Regions from separate parts of the Homo sapiens genome. Here regions 2, 3, 4 and 5 are each linked to region 1. Evidence: fine-mapped expression QTL. A gene starts in region 1. Each other region holds a variant in brackets. All regions are shown on one strand. Distances are between the middles of the regions.

Region 1 (6,224 bases):
GCCAGTACACCCCCTCCAGCCCCTGAAGCCCTGTCAGCAGCTCAGAGCCTTTCCCCGGAGTCACCCTGCTTCCCGAGGGGACCCACGTTGCTGCTGGGCAAGCTGAGGCCCCGCCACAACCCCAGCGCCTTCCTCTGCCTCCAGACTCCCTCCTAGCACACCCTCTCCAGCTCCTGCAGTCCCACCAGCAGCTCAGAGCCTCTTCCCTGAGTCACCCTGCTTCCCGAGGGGACCTCCACCCAGGGAATGCCCTTCCAGGCTCCTCTCACTGATTCACCTTCACTCCTCAGAGGTCAGGTGCTGGCTGATAGAGGCAATGAGGTGAGCCCCTCACCTCAGGGCGCTCAGCCCCTGGGAAGGTGATGAAAAAGGGCACCCCAAGGGGTGTCCCAAACTAATAGGTGGATGACTCCCGTGGGAAGATCCAGTCTCCCCTCCCCATGGCCAATTAAATTTGGGGTGTTTTTCTTTACTTTTTTGAGGCAAGGTCTTGCTTTGTTGCTCAGGCTGGAGTGCAGTGGCACAATCACAGCTCACTGCAGCCTTGACCTCCTGGGCTCAAGCAATCCTCCTCCTTCAGCTTCCTGAGGAGGTTTTAATTAAATAAATTAAAAGCTAATTAAAAACATTTTTTTTTTTTTTTGGTAGAGATGGGGTCTCACTGTTTTCCAGGCTGATCTTGAACTCCTGGACTCAAGCAATCCTCTTGCTTCAGCCTCTGGAGTAGCTGGGACTACAGGTGCTTGCTACTATGCCCAGCTATTTTTTTTATTTTTTATTTTTATTTTGTAGTGATGGGGTGTGTTTCCTAGGCTGATCTTGAACTCCTGGGCTCAAGCAATCCTCCTGCCTCGGCCTCCCAAAGTGCTGAGATTATAGGTATGAGCCATTGCACTCAGCCTGGATTGTATTAAGGAAACTAGCTTAGTCACTAAACTGCACTTCTACTTCTGATTGGACAAGATTGGCACTTTGTAAACCAGGTTTTCTGGGATGCTGGTTTCCTTGAAGATGTTTCTAGCTGGTATTATCATATAGGATAGGCTGAGTTATGCTGCATTAACAAGCAAAACCCAAAAGGTTTATTTCTCATTCGTGCTGTATGTCCAGCAAATGTGGCTGGGCTTCATTTTAAGTCGTCCTCACTCCCAGACCTAGCCTGTAGGTGCCCCACCATTGGGGGATCGCTGATTGCCATGGCATGGTTAGAGAAATATGGTTCTTAAAGGTTCTCATCCAGAGTGGCACATCTCTCTTCTGCTCACAATGTGTTGACCAAAGCAAGTCACATGGATGGGAGCAGGGAGATGCAATCCTCTCTTGTGCCCAAAAGAGGAGCACAAGAAATACTGTTGAATAGCATTGCCAGAGGCCACAGAAAAATCTCCAAAACCAAAAATCTCTATGACCCAATAAATTCAAGAAATACTGGGTTAAAGAGAAGGAAACCAGTATATGCACTGTGAGACTTCTCAGTCTTTATTATATACATTGTAACCATCACAGACAGCCTTTAATATATACATCTTAACTATCACAGACAGCCTTCAGTATATTATATACATTATAACCATCACAGACAGCCTTCAATATATTATATACATTATAACCATCACAGACAGCCTTTAATATATACATTATAACTATCACAGCCTTTAATATATTATGTACATTGTAACTATCACAGCCTTTAATATATTATATACATTGTAACTACCACCGCCTTTAATATAGTATACCCATTGTAACTATCACAGCCTTTAATATACACATTGTTAACTACCACAGACAGCCTTTAATATATTATATACATTGTAACTATCACAGATAGCCTTTAATATATACATTGTAACTATCGCAGACAGCCCTTTGTTTGAGGGTAAAGCATGTGACTTTGTTTTCCTCCTGTTCCCTCTGCCATCCTCCAGGGCCTCACACACAATAGGCTCTCAAATATTGCAACCATCTTGCACTCTGCAGGGCAACCTCATGGCTTATCCTTTACAAGTGGCATACTCAGAAGAATAACGAGGAAGAAAGTGTAAGAAAAGAGGGCTGTTTGGGCAAAGAAAATCTGGTTGATTCGATGTTTACAGAGTGCCAGGCCCCATGCTTGATCTCATGAGGTCCTCAGACCTTATGCCTTAGGCTATCATTTCCATTTTACAGATAAGGAATTGAGGCTCAGGGAACTGAGAGTGAGGGAAGGGCAGGGGCCTGGCTGGTGCTGGGTTCTGTCTCTTTCCAGGCAAGAAGGGACATGTGGACTTGAATATTTAGCTCAGGGATGTTGGAGGCCTAGGGTGCTGCTATTTAAATGGAAAGGGTGTCAGGGTTTCTGGGAGGGAGTAAGGGGACAGAAGAAAAGATGCTTCTGTTATCAGAAGGGAGTGGCAACGTGACAGGATACTGAAGCTTCCTCTTTTCTTATTCTGTCTCGTTTCTTTCAATATACTTATCACAATGTGTGGCTGATATTTATTATGCCTTTTTCTTTTCTATTCTCTTTTCTTTTTTGGGGCAGGGGAGCTGTTTTGCCACCAAAACCTAAGCCCATGGCCGTCTTCTTCACCGATATGACTGGTTCTCATGCAAGCACCTAGATGGCCCTCGCCCATAATTACTGGCTGCAGTTGAGTGAATAGCGGTCATTATCTAGCGCCCACCGTGTGCCCGGCCCGGTGCCGGGAGCTTTGCTTTCCGTCTCTCACATTAGGCCCTTTTAATCCAACCCCCAAGAAGGAGACACGACCATCGTCTTCATTTTGACGATTTTGAGTGGGGGTTCCAATGACTTGAACGAAAGGAGCCAGGGCACCAATCCGGGTTTGTGTAGCAGATGCCGGTGAGACCCGACTACTGCAGCTCGGGGGTGGCCGGACCCGGGGTCTCCCCGCTGAGTCTCGGGGCTTCACCGGCGCGTGGGCACAAGCACAGCACCCTCGGGTCGGGGGTGCTAGGAGGGCTAAGAGCAGCAGGACTTGAGTGACACCCAACAGCTGGTCTGATCTCTTTCAGGCGCCAACGCCAGACGCCAGCCTCCCAGCGGACCCTCTCGCAGACCCACCTTCACCCCACGCGCCCTCCCCACACAGTCCACGCGCCAGCAGCTTCGCGGATGTCAGTGAACGCTCTTCGCTTGCGCAGTCAGAACGTCCTCCGCGGCCGTGTGAACATCCGGGTCACAGGCGCATAAGGACCAATGAGCGAAGGCATCGCGAGCCAGGGGGCGCGGAGAAGGCGGGGAATCATGGCCGCCCCCAGTGTTCCGCGTCCGGGGGTTTGTGGGAGTTGCCTTGACCTGCAGCTCCGCCACCGCGGACCCGCCTTCTGCCCTCAGCAGCAGACGCTCTGTCCCGCCCGGGCAGCTCTGCGAGGCAGCGGCTGGAGAGGGAACCATGGGGACTGTGCACGCCCGGGTAAGAGGCCCAGCGACCCGCGGGCTGCGAGGCCTCTGGGCCAGCAGGGCAGACGGGCGCCGCGGGGAGACGCTCTCGTGGCTGCGCCCAGGGTTCACCGGGAGAGAGGGTGCCAAGGGTGCCGGGCTGGGTGGAGGAGGCCGAAAAGAGGTCGCCTCGGGCCAGCGAGTCTTGCAGACCTTCGAGCAGGAACCTGATAGGAGGGACGAGACTTGGCTAAAGGTCACTCGGCGAGTCCGTGGCCCAAAGGACTTGCCAACTTTCTGTGATGTCTTAGACCGCAGTGAATGTGCTCTTTCTTTGCATGATTTTAAGTTTTCTCTCTTTACTGGTCACTTCCAGCCTTTCCCCGCTCAGCCGCTGCTGGAGCCATTGTAGGCTCCTAGAGCAACAAGAATCCTTTGAAGTCTTCTAACTCAAACCTATCTAGGGGTCCTCTTTTCTCCTGTCTACCGTGCAAAAGACGGAACCGCTCTCTGCCTTACTTCCTGTTTTAAAGTGGAGGTAGTAATAGTACCTACCTCGCCTGGCTTAAAAGAGAATTAAAAGACAATGCATGTGAATACTTGGGTGCCTGGCGCCTGACTAACTGTACTGGTTGCCAAACTCCTCTCGTTTATCCTAATCTTAAATAAGGGCCAGATAATGAGTTACTTCTCCAAGGTCACATAGTTACTGGTTCCAAATGGCCTAAAACCTCAGATTTCCTGAGTCTCAGCCCCAACACTACTTTTCTACTGCAACTTTGATTGCTTCACTTGACCTGCATAGACGTTTTCAGTAGTTCCCCATTAACTTCCAAAAAAATTTAGCACAGAAGTCGCAGCCTGACATCGATAATTGGACTTAACTTCCCTTTATATGTCTTTCATTCAGATCAAACACCGTTTCTCTTCTGACATCTCTTTGTGTAACTGTAATAGGTCTGTTGCTCAGTGTGCTCGATAAGTCAATACACTCAGACAGTGGGTTGCAGCAGAGAAAGAGTTTCAGTTGCAGGGCCGCTGAACGAGGAGATGGGAAAAGAGAGGAAACCTCAAATCCATCTCCTTCAGGAGTTTGGACCTCATGTTTTTGCTGAAGTGTGGAGATCCTTGATTGGTGGAAGAGTGAAGGGTGAAGTTATGGGACAGGGAGATGAGGAAACTTCTCATGCTGATTCCGTTCCTCTGTTGCGGGGAGGAGTCTTCAAACTGGTTGGCAGCATCAGTTTTGCTGGAATTCGAGATCTGAAAAACATCTAAAGCAACTCTTAAGCAAAAGCCTTATGATTCTAATTTTAGAAATCCTATCTGTAAAATCAATGGGGATGCAAATAGTATCTGTGACTTTTGGTTACTAGCAAGTAGGTCAGAGTGCAACCTGAGCTCTTCCTGCCATCTTGGCTCCTGTGGCGGCCTGCCGGGAGCAGGACTTCTGAAAGGAAATATGTCTGGAAGGCTGTGGTCCAAGGCCATTTTTGCTGGCTATAAGTGGAGTCTCCGGAACCAAAGGGAGCACACAGCTCTTCTTAAAATTGAAGGTGTTTATGCCCGAGATGAAACAGAATTCTATTTGGGCTCATGTATACAAAGCAAAGAACAACATAGTGACTCCTGGCGGCAAATCAAACAAAGCCAGAGTAATCTGGGGAAAGGTAACTCGGGCCCACAGAAACAATGGCATGATTCGTGCCAAATTCTGAAGCAATCTTCCTGCTAAGGCTGTTGGACACAGAATCCGAGTAATGCTGTACCCCTCAAGGATTTAAACTAATGAAAAGTCAATAAATCAATGTGGATTTGTGCTCTTGAAAAAAAAAAGGCAACTTGATTAATGGTTAATTGTAACTACATTTCTTTTGAGATGGAGTCTCACTGTGTTGCCCAGGCTGGAGTGCAATGGTGCAATCTCCACTCACTGCAACCTCCGCCTCCCAGGTTCAAGCGATTCTCCTGCCTCAGCCTCCCATGTAGCTGGGATTATAGGCGCACGCCACCACACCCAGCCAATTTTTGTATTTTTAGTAGAGACGGGGGTTTCATCATGTTGGCCAGGCTGGTCTTGAACTCCTGACCTCAAGTGATCATCCCGCCTCGGCCTCCCAAAGTGCTGAGATTACAGGTGTGAGCCACTGCGCCCAGCCAATTATAACTACATTTCTGTCCAGATGTCCAGAATAATTTTTTTTGTTGTTGTTGAGACAGAGTCTTGCTCTGTGCCCAGGCTGGAGTGCAGTGGCACGGTCTTGGCTCACTGCAAGCTCCACCTCCCAGATTCACACCATTCTCCTGCTTCAGCCTCCTGAATAGCTGGGACCACAGGCGCCTGCCACCATGTTCGGCTAATTTTTTGTATTAGTAGAGACGGGGTTTCACTGTTAGCTAGGATGGTCTCGATCTCCTGACCTTGTGATCCGCCTGCCTCGGCCTTCCAAAGTGCTGAGATTACAGGCATGAGTCACCACGCCTGGCCTTTGTCCAGAATTCTTGTTAGCCCTGTGAGGATGGCTTTATTTGGACCGCACTATTGCACTTCATTCCCCCTCCCATCATCCATCTTTAGCATCAAAATATTCCCATCTTTTAGAACTCCGTTCTGAAAGTTCTTTATCCCCTGCATTTGGATGGGCTTCGCCTTTCCGTGCCATTTCCTTTGGTGCCATTTACATTTTGGCTTGTTTTGGGTCTGTTTGCATTTTCGTCTTATCCTTTGATCCTAAATTTCTAGATGTAATGGTAGGAACTGCATCTTCTTGGCTTGCATCCCCTGTGGCATCTTGAACAAAGTAATCACTCATTATTTATTCAGCTCATATTTATTGAT
Region 2 (6,224 bases), 42 kb after region 1:
GGAGGGTGCTGAGAGGGCCCCCTGGAGCAGGTCCCTGAGCTGAATCTTCCTAGAGGACAGACAGCCAGGTGCTTGCAGAAGACACGCAGGGACAGTGGTCCTGGCTAACAAAGGCAGGAGCAAAGCTGTGCAGGTGTGCGCTGTCGGCGGGCACCGGGCAGAACCGCGTCCTACAGGAACAGAAGGGGGAGTGGGGAGGTCCAGGCCCTGAGCTCCCACGCCTTTGCCTTCCAGCCCCGCTGACCTTTTTCCCCTTGGGTATATGCCAGGGTCTTTGAGCTCAGGACTTCATCTGCCTTGTTCACCGCTGAGGTCCCCATGACTACAACTGCACCTGGTGTTGGAAGTGAGAGCCAGGTGGAGAGGCTCCTGGCGTGTGGTGGGAGGTGGGGTGCAAGGCGCCAAGGGTGCTGTTGGCATGACCTTCCTAAAGCACCCCATGCTGGGTGCTTCCTGGCCTCCAGCCTCAGAGTCCAAGTTCGTCAGAAGCCTTTGAACATCAGACTCCAAGACCCTGTGCCGGCAGTGGCAGTGCTGGGTGAGAAGAAGGTGGGAGATGACCAGGAGCCCTGCACCAAGACAGCGGCCGTGAGGGAGGGAGAGAGCGTGGGGTGCACAGCAGAAGGTGGATGTTTGGGGCTGTCTGGAGGATGCCAAGGCTGGCTTGCCCCTGGTCTGGTGGAACTTCGCAGCGCTGCTTTGAATGTTTGCAGTGGGTATTTTGTTCTGTGACATGTTTATGTGGTCTCTGAGCATAAACCTATGCTTGTGAAGTTGTTTAATCTGTTTGTTTGTACTTAGAGTGACAGGCCTTTATTAGAATGCTTGCTTGTTTTCTGAATTACATATGCCAAGAGCTTGACTTCCTTTTTAGCTCCTAGCTTATGTTCAGGCATTTTTCTAAGTAGCGAATGTAGGTATAGACTAGTTTGAAGGAGCTGAGAGTGTACAATCTAAAAACAGATCTGAACACAACTAAATGGTACAAATGCAGCCCGGGTTTTGATGTGGATTCTGGTGTTTTAAGGCCATGGATGTGGCTTACTGTAATCTTGAAGGGGCTGCAGTCCTGGCTTCTGGTGAGAGGACTGCAGTGCCGGGGCTGGTTAATAAGCACCCTTCATCCTGCAGGAGGCCGGCGCAGCATTTGTGAGTATCTGTGTTGAATCTCTTCGTGGATCAGATATTGTGTCTTCTTGCTCAGAGTCAGGTTGGAAAAGGAAAACTTGCCGCCGGTGTGCATGTGCTCCAAATCCTCAGCTTGGGCAAGGGCACGGGCGTCGTGAATAAAGGAGCCATTCTTGCTGGCCTTTTCTAGAAATTGCCCACAGCTTGCAAAAAGGCTGTGTTCCCTGGCCCCGGCTGCGGCTGTGTAGGAGTCTGAATATCATTTTCCCCAGAAGTTGAGGTCCCTAGGTTAGGCCCACCTTGTCCCAAATGGGCAGCATTGGCCTTGCCCCATGCACAGGCTCCAGGCGGACAGAGCTGCTGCAGGCATGCTGTCAGGGGGACAGGCTGCCCCCCAGCTGTGCATGGCAGTGTGTCGGAAAGAACAAGGCCTGTGGGTGCCCCTGAGCCGGGTCTGGAGTCCTGTCCTGCCACTTCTCAGCCGTGTGACTGGAGCCTCTTTGCTCCTCTCTGAAAATGGGTCTGGTGGTTTGTTCCCAGGTTCTTAACCACTGTGTGGAGTCACACCTGCAGAAGGTCAGCTCATAACAGATATGGCAACCAATGTGACCTTTGCATCCTTCCTTCCTGGGGTCAGGAGCAGGTCTAAGAGGTGGTCAGGCTAAACCCCTGTAGGGCTGTGGGTACTGCTGGTTTCCTAAGCCCCGGGACCTTCTGGGGGCCGGGCGGACCTTAAGTTCTGTCCACCTGCCTCTCCTCCATCCTCACTACCCACCTTGTCCTTCCGGCTCCTTCCCTCCCTGCTCCGCCTCTCATCGGCCCTCTGTCCTCTCCGTCCGGAGAGGGGAACGTGAAGGAGGTGAGGAGGGAGTAGTGCAGGAGGATTTGGGTCTCTCCTTCTTTCCCTTTTCCATTCTCCGAGGGCTTAACCAGCTGGTGAAGGTTCTTAACCAGCAAAGGAGGAAGCAGCCGGGGCCGGTGAGGGTGAGGCCGGCAGCCAGGCAGGAAGGCAGCAGGAGGAGGAGGAAGCGGAGGCGGCACCTTCTGAGAGGCGCATGCTCAGTGAGTCGTGAAGATGGCAGGGCTGGCGGAGCGGCCGCCGCATCTGATCTCTCCCCTTTTTTTAGGATATGTGATGGCGTCCAGTTTGGAGCTGGGATAAGGTTCCTGTAGCCGACACCCCTACAGGAGAAGCTCTGGGACTGGGGCAGCAGCAAGGCGCCCATGCCACACACCGTCTCTCGAGGAAACGCGGTTCAGCGATTCTTTGACTGCGGACCCTGTGGGAAACCCCGTCAATAAATGTTAAAGACACACTCCGAGGCAGC[G/C]TGGATGTGGTTTGCTTTCACTCAACAGTATGGCCCGCGTGGCCTTTCCCCGGGACCACCCGTGTTCTCACACACCCGCCCAGTGTCTGCGAGTCTCCGTGTTTGGTTCCCGTGTACCAGACATGATGTATTCAGAGCCAGGCAGCAGGAGGGAGCTTTGCCCCAGAGGAAGCTCAGCCATGCTGTTACGGAGAGGGCGCGCTCCCCTCGATGCACCAGCCGTTGTCAGAGGAGGCCCACGGCAGCGGGCGCTTGGAGCCACAGTGCTCGAGCCATTTGAGTGTGTGAGTGGCAAGGGAGAAATACCCAAACCGTGTAACATTAGGGACACTGAAGCAAAGACGGAGCCTGGTGTCTACAGACGAATGGCAGCATGAATGAGTGTGCGTTTTCTGGGGCTGCTCTAAGTCACCACAAACGTGGGGGCTTAAAACAACACACATTAATCCTCTTGTAGTCTGGAGATCAGAGTCCAGAATGGGTCTTGCTGGGCTGCGTCCTCCTGGAGGCGCTAAGGGGAAATCCCCCTCCTTTGCCAGCAGTGAGAGGCACCACATTCCTTGGCCGACGTCACCTGCATCTTTAAAGCCAGCCATGTGGTGTCCCCCATCTCTCCCTCTTGCCTCCTCTGCGTCTCTGCTGTCTTTGAAGGACCCCTGTGGTGACCTCGGATCTGCCCGGGGAATCCAGGGGTCTTATTTCTAGGTCAGCAGATGAGCGTCCTTAATTCCGTCTGCAGACTTAGCGCCCCCTTGTCATGTTATCGTCACGTTTACACGATCCAGGGATTAGGAGGTGTGCGTCTTCGGCTGGGTGGGAGTGCGGGACATTATTCTGTCTCACACAACTAGTATCTCTCTAATATTTGGGGGATAATCTTAAATTGGTCACACATAAAAAAAGTTTTTGAAGAACGTGAAACCTCCTTTGAATTGAAAAAGTGGTGCCATATGGAAACGTCTAGTGTTGCAGGTGATGCCCCGCAGGGCTTCGCACATGCATTACTCTCCGATTTTTTCTCTCTCTCAGCTGGGGCTGAGTCCCCGTCACTTTCAGTCCTCCCCGTAACTTGTTGTTTATGTCTTTGCCAAATGACCTGAAGATTTGGGCCTCAGTCTGGGGACCCATGTTATCCCTGGGCCACACTCTCAGGTGCCCCGGGACTGTCTCGCCCTCATTACCTGCAGAAGCTGCAGGGATTTTACAGAGAATATATAAAAAGAGACAGTTTTGGTTGGGCGTGGTGGCTTGCACCTGTAATCACAGCAGTTTGGGAGGCCGAGGTGGGTGGATCATTTGAGGCCAGTAGTTCAAGACCAGCCTGGCCAACATGGTGAAACCCCACTTCTACTAAAAATAGAAAAATTAGCTGGGCGTGGTGACAGATGCCTGTAGTCCCAGCTACTCGGGAGGCTGAGGCAGGAGAATCGCTTGAACCCATGAGGCAGAGGTTGCAGTGAGCTGAGATCCCGCCACTGCGCTCCAACCTGGGCGACAGAGTGAGACTCTGTCTCAAAAAAAAGAGTTTTGCCTTCCTTATAATAGTTAGGAACATGGAAAAATGTGCTTTTTCCCCCTAAATGATTTATTCTTTACAGTTTCACGCTTATGCCTTTGAGAAAACCAGAAACCCATGTTTCAACACTGTCATGATCAGACCATCAACTTAGACCAGTGAAATCTGAATAATACAGACTCAGCACTATGATCTTTGAGAAATCATCTACTACATCAGTGGAGAACCCAGCGAAAGGGTCACCTGAGAAAAGTTACCTGTTTAATCAAGCAAGTCTGGGGTACCCCAGGTCGCTACAGCCAGCTCCTTAATGAAAGCTCACCAGGGCCAGCTGTCTCTCGTGCGGCTGCAGCGTGTTTAATTTGCAGGTGGACTCCGCGGGCTGCTCCTCCACAGGTGAAGTGAAAACAGTGGAGGTCCTGGGTGAAAATGCGGGTTCTGTTCATCCTCAGAAGGTGGTAAGTGGGCAGACTAGAGCGTGAAGCCAGAGGCACTTCATCAAGTGCTTTCCACAAAAGACCAAAAATAAGGCACGTTCATTGTGGGAAGGAATTTCATAGCTGCTATTTTAGAGAGCTCAGAGAGCAAAGAAAGATGGAAAGCCTCACAAAATCCCCCATGAAATCCTCCCTTGGCTCAGTGATTCTTTGCATCTTAATGTTACTCCGTTTCTTCTCTAAATACCTCAATTTTCTGGACTGGAAGAGAGCTGGGTATTTGTTTAATTAACCTCTTGCTTTACTCGGCGAGGGATGGGCCATGAAACCAGTGGGCTGCTTCCGCTGAAGAATGCTGCCGGCTCCGTGCCGGAAGCCTGCTGGCTCGGTCATCTTCCATTTGTAACAAGAAGATTGATTTTAGTGAACCTAATCTTCACAATGCTTCTGGAAGAACAGCTGTGATGGATCACTCCTCTGTTATCGTGAATCTGCGGTGCTCTCGGTACACACACTGTGACCTTTAACAAACGGTTTCATCAGTGGTGTGCCTGCCACACTGTGCCACAAGGCTCTTTTGTACCTGGCTGCTGTCTACAAGTCTTATGACCCAGTGAGGGAGCAGACTGTTCTGCCAAATGCCATCGCTACTAGGACAAAGGACAGTCACCTGGTGAGGATCTGCCATCAGGCCACATTTTCCCATTGGGTGACTCCTGCAAAGGCCCTACACTTTGACGTCCTCCCCATCTCCGGCAGCTCCTTAAACTAAGAACTCATTTTAATTTCTGAATTCTCCCTTTTTAAAGACCAGATAAATTTACCTTTGGGACAGTTAGATGTGCACAAATGCACCATGTGTTTAAAGATCACCAAAGAGGAGAGAAAAGGGGATTCCTTAGTCCAGAGAACAAAAACTGGTGAGCTGTGATTTAAACAAAACGAATGTTGTTAAAATCAGGTTGTACTCAGAAGTCCAAATTTCTAGCTTCTCTTGAGAAACTGGATCCGACAAACAAAAAATGTTCATTCCTACCTGCAGCAGGAGGCTGGAGCTGAGACGTGGGTGTTCCTGCAGCTGGGGCCTGTGCTCCCAGGCACTCATGGCTTCTCTGGCTGGTTCACTTCTCCCTGGCTCAGACAGATCAGGAGTGGAAACATCTGAATATGCTCAAGGAGGAGGTAAGTTTTGGGGGAAAAACTGTCAGAAAGTGGATGAGGGCTGGGTGCAGTGGCTCATGCCTGTAACCCTAGCACTTTGGGAGGCTGAGGAGGGAGGATTGTTGCTTGAGCCCAGGAATTTGAGACTACTCTGCACAACATAGTGAAAACCCATCTATATGAAAAAAAAAAAAAAAAAAAAAAAACAGCTGGGTGTGGTGGCATGCATCTGTGGTCTCATCTACTTGGGAGACTTAGGTGGGAGGATCACTTGAGCCCAGGAGGTTAAGGCTGCAGTGAGCCGTGATTGCACCACTGCACTCCAGCTGGGGTGACAGAGCGAGACCCTGTCACAAAAAAAAAGAAAGAAAGTGGACTAGCAGTGAGCCCAGGGTCAGGGGCCCTGGCTCTTGCCCTGTTGGGGCTGTTTACCAAATCCACTCACTGCTTTCCTCAGGTTTTTCTTCTACCAAAGGAGAAGATCTTGGTGTATTCAGCAATAGATTCCACTCTTAGTGGATGCCACTCATGAGCTTTCTAGGGCTTTCTACCCCCAAGGTAAAGGCTAGATGATTTTTAACACCAGAGATTGATTGTTTTGCCTGTCTGAGGACATTATGTACAAGGAGTTGAACAGTGGCTCTTTGATTGTGA
Region 3 (5,000 bases), 29 kb after region 1:
AACTTTTTAGCCTACCGTGTATTTTTTGATATTTCATTGGTTTCTAATTTGTGATTTTTGTAAATAACATTGTAAATAATAACTTTTAAGATAACTTGTTGTTTATTTTATTTTCTGTGGTATTACTCTCTCAAAGTAAAACTCATAGTATTGCTGGGTGCTGCTTTTAGGAAGCTTACAGCAATTTATACCCCTACCAGCAGGGTATGAACTTGTACTTGTTGCTTCGAAATACTAATCATTGTCCTCTAGGGCAAAAAAACTTTTTTTTCAACCCTGCATTAGTTAAAATATACTGGTACAGCTTTTTTGGATGGTGGTTTGGAAGTAGAACAATTTTAGGTTTATAAACTCTGGATCCTAACAGTTTCACAAAACTCCATGAATCTAATTTACAAAAGTACTTTTCTAAGTGTGTAAAGATTTATGTGTAGAAGGATGTCCATTGTAGCATTGCTGATGAATAGCAAAGAATTTGAAACTGCCTTATGTAAGTTCCGCAGTAGGGAAATGGTGAAATTCTAGCACAACCATTCCAGATCTATGTAATTATTAAAAATAAGGAGATATGTGTTCATAAGTTAACATTTTGCACATGAATATGTTTAGTGGATCCCTTTCCAGCGTGCATGCAGGTGTAGCACCGAGGGCCTGGGAAGCCAGCCACCAAAACAGTGACGGTGGGCACCCCAGAGCCTGGGATGCAGCAGGCAGAACCATTTCACTCGTTATGTTATATGCATCCTGGATCATTTGAATTCAAATGTGTGATTTATCGTTTCTTTTTTATTTTATTTATGTATGTTTTTTGAGACAGAGTCTTACTCTGTCACCCAGGCTGGAGTGCAGTGGCACGATCTCGACTTACTACAACCTCTACCTCCCGGGTTCAAGCTATTCTCCTGCCCCAGCCTCCCAAGTAGCTGGGACTACAGGCACCCGGCACCACGCCCAGCTAATTTTTGTATTTTTAGTAGAGGCGAGGTTTTACCATGTTGGCTAGGCTGGTCTCTAACTCCTGACCTCAGGTGATGCGCCCACCTCAGCCTCCCAAAATGCTGGGATTACAGGCGCGAGCTACCGCACGTGGCCTGATTGATCATTTCTTTAAAAACGAAGCTTGCTGTTTTTGCAATTCATGTTAATGGGGTATTCAGAAAAGCCTTGCTTAGAAATCCCAAGTAGTAAAAACATATTTATAGGTTTTAAAACTCAAATTAAAATGAAAAAATTCATAAAGGCTTTTATTTGGTAGGAAAACCAGAAAAAGCCGCGCCCTGTTCCCTTTGTGCTGTTGCAGACCTGCAGGGTGTTCTTAGCCTCCCGCGGCCTCAAAGGTCAGAGGGCTCTGAGGGCACCTGCCGGGGTTGTGTCCTTGGCTGCCTCTTGGCTGGAAAGATTACACAGAATTTCTCTTGTCATTTAAATTCATTTTTTAGTAATTATCATAATCTAAAATCGGGTTCTAATATGCTGTTCAATTTTTCAGAAAGTGGATGGGTTTTTATGTAATTAATTTTTAATTCACGCTTTTCATATTATTCAGATATGGTTGGTGAGAGTGTGACAATCCAGTTCATTAGGGAACAAGAGGAGCTCATATTTAAAAATTATAAACCTAACAAGAATTCTTTTTTGGTCTGTTTCTAGTATTATAGCCCCCCTTTTTGTAATATTGGGATTATACTATTAAATAATTTGTATCCTGCTCTTCTTCCCCTAATATCGCACTGTGAGCCAGTAGGAGGCCCGCCATGAAAAGGAACTGCGTCATGAATTCTCACAGACAGCTGATAGTTCCTTTGTGACAGACAGTTTGCCCTGCCCCTCTCTCCTAGTGTGTTTCTTGGCATCTTGTGTCTCACCTGCATCTCCAAAGTTTGCAGTGTCTCCTTAGATGTTGAGATTTTTATGAAATTCCCCTGTAGTGTGCACCCTCTTGGTCTTTCTCAAAGGTTTTGCCTTGTAAAAATGCTGTCGATAATCTAGTATCGAATGTGAGTCTGACATGTGTTTCCTACGCGTTCCGTGTGTCATGTCGTTTCTCACCTCCTGACTTTCCTCTGACCTGTGTGCTGTTTTGTCCTAGGTTTTACCTTGGGGGACCCACAAGCATCCGCGGATTCAGCATGCACAGCATCGGGCCACAGAGCGAAGGTCTGTCCTTTCCCCTCACGGCGCCAAGTCTAGAAGGCTCGCGTCTCACTTTGGAAACCATGTACCTGTTATTAGCTTACAGCGATAATAGACATTCCTCTTTCACGGTGGTGGAATTAGCACCTAAC[A/G]CAGAACTTACCATGTAGCAGGTGTAGAACATTTATTGAGAGAATTGTAGGAAAATGAGAAAATATATCTGAGCAAAAACTCTGTGAAAATGACCCGCAGTCCTACCCAGAGAGAACATGTGTAAACGTGTTGTTGTCTGTTCCCTGCAGGTTTGACATGTGCTTCCTACTCTTCCTTTGTTTACATATTATTATTTTTTTTGAGATGGAGTCTCGCCCTGTTGCCTAGGCTGGAGTGCAATGGCGCGATCTCGGCTCACCGCAACCTCCGCCTCCTGGGTTCAAATGATTCTCCTGCCTCAGCCTCCCAAGTAGCTGGGATTACAGGCACCCGCCACCATGCCTAGCTAATTTTTGTATTTTTAGTAGAGATGGGGTTTTACCATGTTGGCCAGGCTGGTCTCAAACTCCTGACCTCGTGATCCGCCTGCCTCAGCCTCCCAAAGTGCTGGGATTACAGGTGTGAGCCACTGGGCCCGACCCCTATGTATTATTATTAATATTATCATTATTATTTTGAGACAGAGTCTCGCTCTGTCGCCCAGGCTGGAGTGCAGTGGCACGATCTCGGCTCACTGCAACCTCCGCCTCCCGGGTTCACACGATTCTCCTGCCTCAGCCCCCTGAGTAGCTGGGATTACAGGCACACACCACCACGCCTGGCTAACTTTTTGTGTATTTTTAGTAGAGACGGGGTTTCATTATGTTGGCCAGACTGGTCTTGAACTCCTGACCTCGTGATCCACCGGCCTTGGCCTTCTAAAGTGCTGGGATTACAGATGTGAGCCACTGCGCCTGGCCCCTACGTATTATTTTTAAACCCATTTCTCTCATCACCTCCCATAAAAATGTAACAGTATATTTTTATGCGAGTAAATGCCATTTTTAACAGGTACATATTTCATATTATTGACATCCTATATTTTAGTTAATAGGCTTAATTTGTTAGAGCAGTTTTAGGTTTACAGAAAAGTTGGGCAAAAAGTACAGTGTTCCCGTATAACCCCCATAGCTTCCTTATTATTAGCACCTTGTGTTAGGATGCTTCATTGGTTAGGATTGGTGAAGCAATATGATAACCTTATTAACTCAAGGCCATAGTTTACATGAGGGTTCACTCTTAGTGTTGTACCTTCTGTGGGCTTTGACAAATGCATGATGTCCTGCATTCACCATTCCAGGATCACACAAAGTGGCTTCACTGCGCTAAAAATGCTGGGCTCCCTTCATCCCTCCCACCAGACCACTGGAAACGACAGGTCTTTGAACTATCCATGGAGTTTTGCCTTTTCCAGACAGTTTGGGAGTTGGGATCATACAGTTTGTAGCCTTTTCAAGTTGTCTTCTTTTCCGTAGTAATATGCACTTAAGGTCCCTCCATGTCTTTCTGGGACCCAATAACTTGTTTCTTCTTATTGCTGAATAATATTCCTTTGTCTGGAAGTACCACAGTTTGTTTGTCCATTCAGCTGCCGAAGGACAGCTTGGTTGCTTCTAGTGTTTGGCAGTGATGAGTAAAGCTTCTATCAACATTCACGCGCAGGTTGTTGTGGACAGCTTCTGGGACATAAGTTGTCACATCTGCTGAGTCAGTGCCGGGGAGCGCAGTTGTTTGGTCACGTGTTAAGAGCACGCCTCCCCTTTGTAAGGAGCTGCCAGGCGAGCTTCCGGGGTGGCCGCGTCCTTTTGCATTTCCCCAGTGAGGAATGAGAGAGAGAAAGTTTATCATCTTAATGGCTGCGTGTTTTGTCTTATGACACACTATTATCTTTTTAAAGACCAAATCCCAAGCTTTGGACATTGAGTTTGTGTTTTTTTTTTTCTTTTATGATTATAAAACAATGTATTCACCTTCGAACTGAATGTTGGTACTCATCTGTAAGTTTTATTTATTTATTTATTTTTTCTTTCTTTCTTTTTTTTTTTTTTTTTGAGATGGAGTCTTGCTCTGTTGCCCAGACTGGAGTGCATTGGCGCAATCTCAGCTCACTGCAACCTCCACCTCCCAGGTTCAAGTGATTCTCCTGCCTCATCCTCCTGAGTAGCATGATTACAGGTGCCCGCCACCATGCCCGGCTAATTTTTCTATTTTTATTAGAGACGGGGTTTCTCCATGTTGGCCAGGCTGATCTCAAACTCCTGACCTCGTGATTTGCCCGCCTTGGCCTCCCAAAGTGCTGGGATTACAGGTGTGAGCCAGCACGCCTGGCCAAGTTTTACTTTAATATGAAATTCTAGATGTGAAATCGCCAGATCTTTTAGGGCTTTATCGTACTTTCTGGGAAGGTTGTCTCATTTATACTCCTAGAACCGTCTCTGACATGCAACATCCGTCAGAGGTATCTCCACATGCTATGGAACTTTAAAACATCATTTAAGTGGATGCATATTATTCCATTATTAAACATTCTCCCCTGATTTTCTTACTTTTTTTTTTTTTGAGACGGAGTCTCGCTCTGTTGCCCAGGCTGGAGTGCAGTGGCGTGATCTCAGCTGACTGCAACCTCTGCCTCCCAGGTTCAAGCGATTCCCCCTGCCTCAACCTCCTGAATAGCTGGGATTACAGGTGCCCGCCATCACGCCCAGCTAATTTTTGTATTTTTTAATAGAGATGGGGTTTCGCCGTGTTGGCCAGGCTGGTCTTGAACTCCTGACTTCAGGTGATCTGCCCGCCTTGGCCCCCCAAAGTGCTCATATTACAGGCGTGAGTCACTG
Region 4 (5,000 bases), 25 kb before region 1:
AAGTAATCTGCCCACCTCTGCCTGGCAGTTACAATTTCAAATAATTCCTCCCTTTCCTTCAACACTTGGCTCATGACCGTCCAGTCCAAGGAACCTGTCCTGCAGGTGTGCCTCTCCCGAGCTTCCTCTATGCATCTTCCATAATGAAGATGCCTTCTCACTGGAAACCCTACAAGGGTGGGAACGTGCCTTATTTGCCTGTATCCTCAGGGTCTAGCAGAGAGAAGATAATTTGTAATACCAAAACACCATTAAATTCAGCTGATGCTTTCATAAGCGCTCCTTGGAGGAAGGACTCCATTTACTTGACAGATCTGTGCAAGACAGCAGCCTGGCGCGTCTAACCTGCAGCCAGTTGCATCCTCTGTTTAACCTTGTTTGCGGAAGCTTTCTCTAAACAGCCAGCACTTGTCTGTTCCCACATGGGTCCGTTCTCCCAGTGAATCACCGTGGTGCCTGCTGACTGCTCTGTAGCACAGTGCTTCGCAAAGTGTGATCCTGGGACCAGCAGAGCAGCAGCTCCTTTGAGCTTATTGGAATGGCAGACCCTCAGGTCCCACCTCTGACCTGCTGCATGGGAATTCTGGGGAGGGACGCAGAATCTCTGGTTCCACAGGCTCTCCGGTGATGCTAATGAATACCGGCATTTGAACAGCACCGATCTAGCCCCTTTCAGTCCATGAGCCAACAACCCTTGGTCCTGTCTGTGGTGACCCAGTGTGACTCTCATGGGGAGCAAGGAGAGGAAGTTGAAGTTCACTGACAGGGTTGTTAAGGGGATTATGCAATAGATGAGACCCATGGGCCTGAAGTCCGAGGGTGTATGTTAGTTCCCCGTTCTTTTGACCCATGGATTAACCTACTCTGTGCAAAGGGCATTTTCAAGTTTGTTGCCCTGCTCACTTGGAGAAAGCTTATGAAGGATCAGGAAAATTAAAAGGGTGCTCTCGCCTATAACTTCTCTCTCCTTTGCTTTCACAGGCCTTGGTATGTTCCTGCTTCATCCCCTTCTACAGTGGCCTTATCCCTCCTTCCTTCAGAGGCGTGGTAAGTCGGCTTTCTCTGCTAGCGCTGAGTCCTGGGGGCCTCTGAAGTGTGCTCACACATCTCCTGCCTGCAGGGCACTGGTGTCGGGCACCTCAGGGTCTGTCCCATGGTGGAGCCCCATGCCTCACTGCCTTTCAGACAGAGTAGCCACAGCTGGCCCTATTTCCAGGCTACCCGGGCAGCAAAACTTACTGCATGTGTAATTAATTATTTGGCTATCTGTAAGGTAAACTGGCTGGTTCACTTAATCTGCACCTTAAGCATCAGATAGCTTCTCAGTGATCTAGTTAAACTATATGATGTTGGCCAGGCGCGGTGGCTCATGTCTGTAATCCCAGCACTTTGGGAGCCTGAAGCAGGCAGATCACTTGAGGTCAGGAGTTCGAGACCAGCCTGGCCAACAGTGTGAAACTCTGTCTCTCCTAAAAATACAAAAATTAGCTGGGCATGGTGGTGTGCACCTGTAATCCCAGCTGCTCGGGAGGCTGAGGCAGGAGAATTGCTTGAACTTGGGAGGCGGAAGTTGCAGTGAGCCAAGATCGCACCACTGCACTCCATCCTGGGTGACAGAGCGAGACTCTATCTCAAAAAGAAAAAAAAAAAAAAGGTAAATAAAGTATATGACACTGAAGAATCTGTTACCCCTGGAAGGTGGAGCTTTACTCTTAGGGGGAACTATAACAGTCATATATATATATTTTTTTCTTTTCTTTTTTTTTTTTTTTGAGATGGAGTCTGGCTCTGTCGCCCAGGCTGGAGTGCAGTGGTGCAATCTCGGCTCACTGCAACCTCCACCTCACAGGTTCAGGCAATTCTCCTGCCTCAACCTCCCGAGTAGCTGGGATTACAGGTGCCTGCCGTCACGCCAAGCTAATTTTTGTATTTTTAGTAGAGACAGGGTTTCATCATATTGGCCAGGCTGGTCTCCAACTCCTGACCTCAGGTGATCCGCCCGCCTTGGCCTCCCAAAGTGCTGAG[A/G]TTACAGGCGTGAGCCATGGTGCCCGGCCAACAATCACATGTGTTGTAAACAACAACAAAAATCTGTCAGCCTGGTCTAACCTAGATTTGTGCTTTGTTTTGTTTTGCCACTTTGTGATGCACAGGAGGAAGTTTAGGCTGTAAAATACTAGCCTTTTAGGGTAATTTTTGAACTCACAAGAGCAGCAGCGGAACCTTTGATGCAATCCTGTATGTAGCACCAGCAGAGCCACGTGGCAGAGGGACTCGCATTAGGAGCCTCCCATTACAGACTACGTGCTCCTGTGCGTTATCTTATAGGGTCCCCACAACCAAGGGGAGATGTGATTATTCATCCTGTGTGGCTGTGGGGAACTTGAGAGTCATACTTGCCCAAAGAGCACGGCCAGCGAGCTTGCACCCAGGTCACTCTCTGCTCCTCTGTCAGAACAGGGCATGTCTTGGTTCACTGCAGGGCGGCTCTTCTCATTCTCTGTAGTTTGGGGTCCAGGATAGTGGTCCACGGAGCCACTGGAGTGCCCAGCTACTGAGTGACCAAAGCATATTTTGGATTTCCGACATTGCCACAGCATGGTTGGGCATCAGCAGGACCCCAACCCCTTGTTATGCTGGTGGCTTTATGTGGTTATTTGATCTTCCCCAGAACTCAGCAGGAGTGCACCCAGCAGCACCGTAGTGATGCTCTCTGGCTCCCCAGTGCACGGTTCTGGCTTTCCTTCCTGGTCGAGAGTTTCAAGCCCTCTGGGTCCTACTCTGTCCTTTTCAGCCCATAGCTTTGTTCAAAAGCTGCTGGCAGTGTTCAGATTTGGCTGAGTTCAGTGAATATGTGCATTGGCTGATTTCTGAGCCATGCCAGGGGGATGGAGAAGCCGAAGCAGGAGTGTTTGTTCTGCAGGCTCTGGAGTAGGCATTGGGTCTGTGCCGGCTCACTTGCTAGTCTTGCATCCTTCCCCAACCCCCTCTGGGGATGTCTGGCCACATCAGAAGACAGTTTGGGTTGTCAGAACTGGGGGAGTACCAGGCCGAGGTGGGTGGATCATGAGGTCAGGAGATCGAGACCATCCTGGCTAACACAGTGAAACCTCATCTCTACTAAACATACGAAAAAAATTAGCTGGGCGTGGTGGCGGGCGCCTGTAGTCCCAGCTACTCGGGAGGCTGAGGCAGGAGAATGGTGTGAACCCGGGGGGCGGAGCTTGCAGTGAGCTGAGATCCTGCCACTGCACTCCAGCCTGGGCAACAAAGCGAGACTCCGTCTCACAAACAAAACAAAACAAAACAAAACAAAATCTGGGGGAGTGCCACTGGCATCTGATGTATAGAGGCCCGAGATGCTGTGTCATCACCCGTTGAGTGCGCTCATAGGCATCTTCCTGACAATTAGAACCCATTATTCTTCAAATTCAATGCAAGCAAATTCAAAGCATTACTGTGTACATACCGCATGCTAATCAATTGCACCACTGGAGCTCCTAAATTCAAAACATTACTATAAAAAAGTTCAAAATGCATGGAAAAGTTGTACATGGCAGGAGAATATTTGGGCTTCTGACTACCCCTTGAATGAAGATGATCCACCAGCCGCCTTCCTCCTTGGTCTTCACTCCAGATTCCTAGCATTTCATTCTGTGTCTCTTTATGCAGTGAGGTTTTTGTTTGTTTTTTGAGACAGAGTCTCACTGTATCACCTAGGCCTGGAGTGCAGTGGCGCGATCTCAGCTCACTGCAACCCTCGGCTCCTGGGTTTAAGCGATTCTCCTGCCTCAGCCTCCCGAGCAGCTGAGATTACAAGCACACATCCCCATGCCCAGCTAATTTTTGTATTTTTAGCAGAGACAGGGTTTCACCATGTTGCCCAGGCTGGTCTCGAACTCCTGGCCTCAAGTGATCCATGTGCCTCAGCCTTCCAAAGTGCTGGGATTACAGGCGTGAGCCACCATGCCCAGCTCCTAGTGAGGTTTTTGATGCCTTGCTACATCTGCCCTAGAAATTGTGTGACTACGATTTTGGAAATGTTGCTGTGTAAACTTGTGATCATTTCTGGACTCCAGGCAAGAATCTTGATGGCTAAGGTGTGGCTGAACATGTCTGATTCTCTCCTGGACCTGTTTTAGGCCAAACTCTGCTCTGAAATTCCTCCGTGTGGAAGGGCGGGCTGGGGAGAGCCTCCCAGCTGGAATCTTTTGGATGCCTTTCTCTGTGGGTATCTGATGGCTGGCTCTGATGGCTGGCTGTGATGGCTGTGGCTGGAAATCATTGTTGACATGAGTTTCACAGATGCAGGCTCTGTCCAAATTGTAGCAAAAGCTGCCTGCCCCAGCCGAGCTATGGGCAATAAGGTGGTTTAAGGATATAGATGAAGGAAAACTCACCCTTAGAATAATTTATCCAAAATGCTGCTGTGTTGTGGGTTAGAGGACATTTTCTGAGGTCCCAGGTTCATTGTTTCATTTAAGTCTCAAAAGTCCCTCCAGGTGTTGGTTCTAATTGTCAAAGCATGGGGGGAGATGGGCTCATGGGTTAAAGGTCTTATCCCAGATTTCTGTATCCTCCTTGCAAGCAGCAAAGGGGTCTGGATTTGAATCCATGACCATGTTTCTCCTTTGGGTTTCCATCACACTCTGTCCCCGTGCACTGAGCACCCTTTAGTTCATATGACCCCCTTAGGCATGTTACATGGGCACTCCTATAGGTGCCCATCTGGCCCTAGGACTTGGCCAACACAACATGGACTCCAGTTTCCATCTGCCTCTTTGCCAGGCACTTTTGTGCAGTGCACACACTGTACAACAGTAGACGGCAACCCTGAGAGCCAGAGTAGAGCCTGTCCTAGCACCGGAATGCTCGGTAAGGATTTGTCGCAGGAGTGATTCCAAAGCCAATGTCCTCCCTCCATATCAGCCTGTTTGTGGCTCTGAGAAGCTCTGCCCACATGTGAAAGCTTGTTAAGCACTTAAGCACTAACCCAGAGCTTC
Region 5 (6,224 bases), 59 kb after region 1:
TGCCTATTTTTTTTTTTTTTTTTTTTGAGATGGAGTCTCGCTCTGTCGCCCAGGCTAGAGTGCAGTGGCGCAATCTCAGCTCACTGTCATCTCTGCCTCCTGGGTTCACGTCATTCTCCTGCCTCAGAGACAGGGTTTCACTGTGTTAGCCAGGATGGTCTCGATCTCCTGACCTCGTGATCCTCCCGCCTCGGCCTCCCAAAGTGCTGCGATTACAGGCGTGAGCCACTGCGCCCGGCCATGCCTGACTAATTTTTTAAAAATATTTTTCATAGAGATGGACTCTTGCTGTGTTGCCCAGGTTGTTCTCGAACTCCAGGGCTCAAGTGATCCTCCTGCCTCAGCCTCCCAAAGCCCTGGGATGAAGGTGGGAGCTGCACGCACCTGGCCTGCTTACACATCATCTGTGGCTGCTTTCAAGCTACAATAGCAAAATTGGGTCCTTGTAGCCAGGCACGGCGGCTCACGCCTATAATCCCAGCACTTTGGGAGGCTGAGGCAGGTGGATCACTTGAGGTCAGGCGTTTGAGACCAGCCTGGCCAACATGATGAAACCCTGTCTCTACTTTATACAAAAGTTAGCCAGGCGTGGTGGTGCATGCCTGTAATCCCAGCTGCTCGGGAGGCTGAGGCAAGAACATTGTAAGCCTGCTGGTGCTTGAACCTGGGAGGCAGAGGTTGCAGTGAGCCAAGATCACACCACTGCCCTCCAGCCTGGGTGACAGAGTGAGATGCTGTCTCAGTAAATAAATAAATAAATAAAATTTAAAAAATTGAGTCCTTGCATCAGAGTCTGTCTGGCCCCTTACACACCCCTGCCGTAGACCACTGTGTCTTCCCTGGCCACAGCAATGTTCTCATGATGTGCTATGGCCGCCACATCCTTAGCTCCAGCATCGTAGAGCAAGTTCCCTCCCACAAAGCCCTACACTTCAGTTCTCCCCTACCCCCGTCATCATTCTCTCCTTCATCCAAAACACCACTCTCATCCCCTCACTGCTCTCAAATTGGGTGGGAGGAGAAAATAAAAACCTTTCATTTTGCAAGCAGGTGATACCTGGATGGCAAATGAATGGCAAAAGAAATTCAGACTAAGGTGTGAATGTCTAATAGACTTGGCCTTTGTTCTCCCACCCACCTAAGAGGTCCTGGCATGTTTCAAGGAGCTTGCTCATCCCCCATTTTCTCATAGCTGGTCAGAGGGGAGTCTTTTTTTAAAGGGGGCATAATCTTTGGGGGACTTTCCCAGTTTTCCCCCATGGAAGACTAGGAACCAATAACTTGGTACCATGTTATTTATTCCTTCTTCATCTATAAAATATTTAAGGGAACAAAACGCATATGTGGTTTACTCTGCCTGGTATGCAAAAAGAGAACTCGGAGGAATTGCTAATAAATGAAAATCCAACTTCCCTTGTCTCAGAGTTTGCTGATGCTTCCAAAATCATTTGAGTGAAAGACGGTTGATCAGTGTAGTTGGTGATTCATGTTCTGCTCACACGTGGCATGGGCAGAAGTGTTTCCATCACAGTTTTAAAATTCTAGGCAAGTCTGGTCATCTCCTCCTGCTCTTAGTATTTACTGTGAACATCGCAGGTTACTCTCTTGCCAGATCACTAAATTAGCAGACTGATTAAATAACACCATTTCAAAATGCTAGTTTAGATATTATGGTTACAGCGTGCTTGAAAACCCTACCCCAAAGTGCAGTAAGATTGCCTCAAAAGTATAACCTGGGGGAAATAAGGCATTTTCTCCATCGCACATCAATTAAATATTTCCATCACTTCTCTACACACTTCTAACTCGCCTAAAATTGCTTGGAGGTCTGAAAATGAACAACACAAGAAGACATTTCACAGTCTTAAGTATTCCCTGGAATGAGTTCCCTTTTCTCTCCCAAAGAGCTACAGGCGGTTTTTATTTATTTATTTATTTTGAGAAATATCAGCTTCTTTTTAGTTCTATTAAAGAGAAGTGAAAGAAAGCTGACAAGCTTTATTTATTTAACTTTTTTTTTTTTTAACTTTTTTGAGACAGTCTCGCTCTGTCACCCAGGCTGGAGTGCAGTTGCGCGATGTCAGCTTACTGCAACCTCCACCTCCCGGGTTCAGGCGATTCTCGTGCCTCAGCCTCCCAAGTAGCTAAGACTACAGGCACGCACCACCACGCCCGGTTAATTTTTTTGTAGTTTTAGTAGATAAAGGTTTCACCACGTTGGCCAGGCTGATCTCAAACTCTTGACTTCAGGTGATCCGTCTGCCTCGGCCTCCCAAAGTGCTGGGATTACAGGCGTGAGTCACCGTGCCTGACCGCTTGCAGCTTTTAAGACCCTCTTTAAGCACTTAGAGTGCTGCCATGTTATCCAGAAGGAAACTCACACATGTAAAGAATCCAAATTATCCCATCCAGGGGTATCACGTATTGACTTTCTTTTCCCCAAGAATTTATTGTGGTCTAATTTATATAGAGGGAAATGCACACGTTTCAGTGGAACGTCTGTTGACTTTTCACGTTTGTGTACACTGTGTGACTACCACCAGATCAGGCTGCACATCACCCAGCCAGCCTGCTGGTGCCCATATGCAGGGGAGATCCTCAGTGCCCCTCACCACGCCGGCGAAGCCACTATCAACACAGAACAGAGGTCGCCTGCTCTTGAACTTCAAATAAGTGGATTCACGCAGTCTGTGCTCTTTTGCATCTGTCTGGCCTCTTTCATTCAACATAATGTTTTGGAGATACACTACATTGTTCTTTTTTTTTCTGGATGGAGTCTCACTCTGTCTCCCAGGCTGGAGTGCAGTGGTGCGATCTCGGCTCACTGCAACCTCCACCTCCTGGGTTCAAGCGATTCTCCTGCCTCAGCCTCCTGAGTAGCTGGGATTACAGGTGCCCGCCACCATGCTCAGCTAATTTTTGTATTTTTGGTAGAGACAGGGTTTCGCCATGTTGGCCAGGCTGCTCTCGAACTCCTGACCTCAAGTGATCTGCCCACCTCGGCCTCCCAACGTGCTGGGATTACAGGTGTAAGCCACCATGCCTGGCTCGGTGTAACTTCTATTGAAAAAGATTTTTCTCAGCACTCTGGGAGGCTAATGTGGGTGGATAGCTTGAGGCCAGCAGTTTAAGACCAACCTGGGCAACATAGCAAGACCTCC[ATC/A]TCTGTTTGAAAAAGAAAAGAAGAGAAAAAGATCCACATGTAAGTGGACCTGCACAGTTCCAGCATGTATTGTTCAAGGGTCCTGTGTTTGGGTACTATACACAGAGGAACAATGTTTCCGTTTGTTCAAACACACTGGACTCAGGTCCCTCTTTCTGCAGGCCCAGATTCTCCAAGGCAAGAGTGTGGGTAAGGGAGGTTGACTGAGATCACACAGTGCAGCCCCCAGCATGGGGCACAGAGTGCATGCAGCACCAGCTCAGGAAATGTTTCCTCCTTGTCCTTAATTAAGATTATATGGAACTGGCCTCTTCAGAAGCCACAGTTCAAAAGCAAACCAAATGGTTTTCTTTAATAGGGGCAGCTGCATGTAATCTGATTTTCATAATCATTCTCCAAGTGTACAATGTATGCATAGCCCTGGCACGAGGCATATGTGGGGAGCATATTAAGAAGCAAAGACGGCATTGATGGAGAAGGAGCTAAGTTCATATTTCTGCATCTCATTAAATTCTCTCTTTTTATTAGAAAGTGGCACTTTCCAATCTTGAAGTTAATATTTATGTTTGCTGCTCTGCAAAGCAATTTGGAAAGTAGTTTTAGTGAGATTACCCCAGAGAGAAAGCTAGTTATGTAAACTCCACAGGAGCCAGGCCAGGAAGGAGGAAAGTTTTTCCGGTTTGATCATTGTCCTTCCTTCCTCTCACCTTGAAAAGAAATACAACTTAGTCCACAGCCATCAAGCCAGTTCTTGATTGTCATCTGTAGCACATACAAGACAAAAAAATCATTACAACAGACACAACAATTTTTTTTTTTTTTGAGACGGAATCTCACTCTGTTGCACAGGCTGGAGTGAAGTGGTGCAATCTCAGCTCACTGCAACCTCCGCACCCTGGGTTCAAGCAACTCTCCTCCCTCAGCATTCTGAGTAGCTGGGATTGTAGGTGCCCGCCACCATGCCTGGCTAATTTTTGTATTTTTAGTAGAGATGGGGTTTCACCATGTTGGCCAGGCTGGTCTGAAACTCCTGGCCTCAAATGATTGGCCTGCCTTGGCCTCCCAAACTGCTGGGATTACAGGCGCGAGCCACTGCGCCTGGCCCAGACACAGCAATTAAAAAAAAAAAAAAGTTCTAACCTGCATTTAATAATGATACAGGAGATAGAAAGAAATTATTTAGACAGATAGTGAGGGTGAAAGAGTCCTTGACAAGATCTCTCTTCTAATAAAAAGCAGCCCCCAAAATTATTTTTTTTCTAACAAAGAGCAGCCTGAAAAATCAAGCTGCAAACATAGATAAACATGCTAAAAACTTACATGGGTGAATGCAGACAGCTGTGCCAATAGAAAAGGGCTACCTGGGGCCAGGCGTACCCAACATGAAGACTCCATCTTTCCTTTTCTGTTGTTACCACGTATACAATAAAGAAACGAACAACATGACACTGGCCAGACAGAGAATCCATCTACATAATACATAGGATTGGGGCTGGGCGCGGTGACTCATGCCTGTAATCCCAGCACTTTGGGAGGCTGGGGCGGGCAGATCACCTGAGGTCAGGAGTTTGAGACCAGCCTGGCCAACATGGTGAAACCCCATCTCTACTAAAAATACAGAAATTAGCTGTGGGTGATGATGCACACCTGTAGTCCCAGCTACTTGGGAGGTTGAAGCAGGATAATCATTTGAACCCAGGAGACGGAGGTTTCAGTGAGCCAAGATTGTGCCACTGCACTCTAGTCTGGGCAACAAGAGCAAAACTCTGTCTCACAAAAACAAACAAACAAAAAAAGATTAGGGTGCAGACAGCCAACTTTTAACACCTTATACAAATGATACACCTAGCTCTAACCAGTTTTTCACGCCTTATACAAATGGCACACCTGGCCCAACCAATCGTTTGTGCCCTATGCAAATCAGACACCACCTTCTCAAACTAATCTGTAAAATCCCCTGACATTTCACCATGGAACCAACAACGCATTTTTTTGGGATTTCTCTCTGGGCAGAGAGCTCTTCTCTGTCTTTTTCTTTTTCTTTCTTTCTTTCTTTTTTTTTTTTTTTGAGATGGAGTCTCGCTCTGTCGCCCAGGCTGGAGTGCAGTGGCGTGATCTCGGCTCACTGCAAGCTCCACCTCCCAGGTTTACGCAATTCTCCTGCCTCAGCCTCCCGAGTAGCTGGGACTACAGGCACCTGCCACCAGGCCCAGCTAATTTTTTGTATTTTTAGTAGAGACGGGGTTTCACCGTGTTAGCCAGGATGGTCTCGATCTCCTGACTTCGTGATCCGCCCGCCTCAGCCTCCCAAAGTGCTGGGATTACAGGCATGAGCCACTGTGCCTGGCCTAGCTCTTCTCTTTCACCTATTAACTTCCACTCTAAACCTCACTCTCTGTGTGTCCATGTCTTAGTTTTCTGTGGCTGTGAGACAATGAATCTCGGGTATCACCCCAGACAAATGAGGCCACTTCAATAACACATCATCCTATCCAAGTGTAAACATGAAATTCGCTTATGTTTCATATACACCTTGTACACAGAGTCTGAAGGTAATTTTATACAATATTTTAAATAATTTTGTGCGTGAAACAAAGTTTATGTACAAGAGATATTACAGCTGAAGGGGGCTGGAAGGGTCTTTTTTCCCCTGGGGCTGCTGAATAAACTGTGTGTTATGTGCCTGGTGCTTCAACTGTAACCTGTCATGTGAGGTCAGGTGTGGAATTTTCCACTTTTGGCATCACGTCAGTGCTCAGAAATGTTCAGATTTTGAACCATTTCATTAGGGATGTTCGACCTGTGGCTGTTTTTACTTCCCCATTTTATTTTATTTTATTTTTTTTGAGATGGAGTTTCACTCTTGTTGCCCAGGCTGGAGTACAATGGCATGATCTTAGCTCACTGCAACCTCTGCCTCCTGGGTTCAAGTGATTCTTCTGCCTCAGCCTCCCGAGTAGCTGGGATTACAGGTGTGCACTGCCATGTCCAGCTAATTTTGTATTTTTAGTAGAGATGGGGTTTCGCCCTGTTGGCCAGGCTGGTCTCGAACTCCTGACCT

Alleles and levels. Positions count from the first base shown, and alleles are read on the strand shown. Sizes are in standard deviations (SD) of each study's normalised expression. Not every link is listed here.
As copies of G replace A in region 4, the expression in ileum of the gene that starts at base 3,263 in region 1 goes down (moderate effect, 0.47 SD a copy in GTEx).
With allele A in place of ATC in region 5, the expression in cerebellar hemisphere of the gene that starts at base 3,263 in region 1 is lower (large effect, 1.1 SD a copy in GTEx).

The links. PIP is the estimated chance that this variant, and not a neighbour inherited with it, causes the effect.
Region 2: its variant is fine-mapped to the expression of SAMM50 in whole blood (INTERVAL, PIP 0.91).
Region 3: its variant is fine-mapped to the expression of SAMM50 in whole blood (TOPMed, PIP above 0.99).
Region 4: its variant is fine-mapped to the expression of SAMM50 in ileum (GTEx, PIP 0.99).
Region 5: its variant is fine-mapped to the expression of SAMM50 in cerebellar hemisphere (GTEx, PIP above 0.99).

The regions. Positions count from the first base shown.
Region 1 is chr22:43,952,180-43,958,403 of GRCh38, forward strand. SAMM50 (SAMM50 sorting and assembly machinery component) reads left to right here and starts at 3,263. Exons shown (of 15, transcript NM_015380.5): 1 at 3,263-3,419. The coding sequence starts at 3,399. It also overlaps the pseudogene RPL35AP36. RefSeq lists enhancers at 2,488-3,240, 2,908-2,957, 3,038-3,117, 3,241-3,992, 3,798-4,007 and a silencer at 3,081-3,355.
Region 2 is chr22:43,994,083-44,000,306 of GRCh38, forward strand. It overlaps SAMM50 (SAMM50 sorting and assembly machinery component), which reads left to right. Exons shown (of 15, transcript NM_015380.5): 15 at 2,256-2,447. The coding sequence ends at 2,301. It also overlaps a transcript of PARVB not described here. Among named protein-coding and RNA genes, the nearest start is that of PARVB, 27 kb to the right of the region's middle. RefSeq lists an enhancer at 2,098-2,267. The variant G/C (reference allele first, on the strand shown) is at 2,457.
Region 3 is chr22:43,981,844-43,986,843 of GRCh38, forward strand. SAMM50 (SAMM50 sorting and assembly machinery component) reads left to right here. Exons shown (of 15, transcript NM_015380.5): 12 at 2,090-2,157. Among named protein-coding and RNA genes, the nearest start is that of SAMM50, 29 kb to the left of the region's middle. The variant A/G (reference allele first, on the strand shown) is at 2,286.
Region 4 is chr22:43,927,843-43,932,842 of GRCh38, forward strand. It overlaps PNPLA3 (patatin like domain 3, 1-acylglycerol-3-phosphate O-acyltransferase), which reads left to right. Exons shown (of 9, transcript NM_025225.3): 3 at 982-1,047. Among named protein-coding and RNA genes, the nearest start is that of PNPLA3, 6.5 kb to the left of the region's middle. The variant A/G (reference allele first, on the strand shown) is at 2,026.
Region 5 is chr22:44,010,884-44,017,107 of GRCh38, forward strand. It overlaps a transcript of PARVB not described here. Among named protein-coding and RNA genes, the nearest start is that of PARVB, 10 kb to the right of the region's middle. The variant ATC/A (reference allele first, on the strand shown) is at 3,162.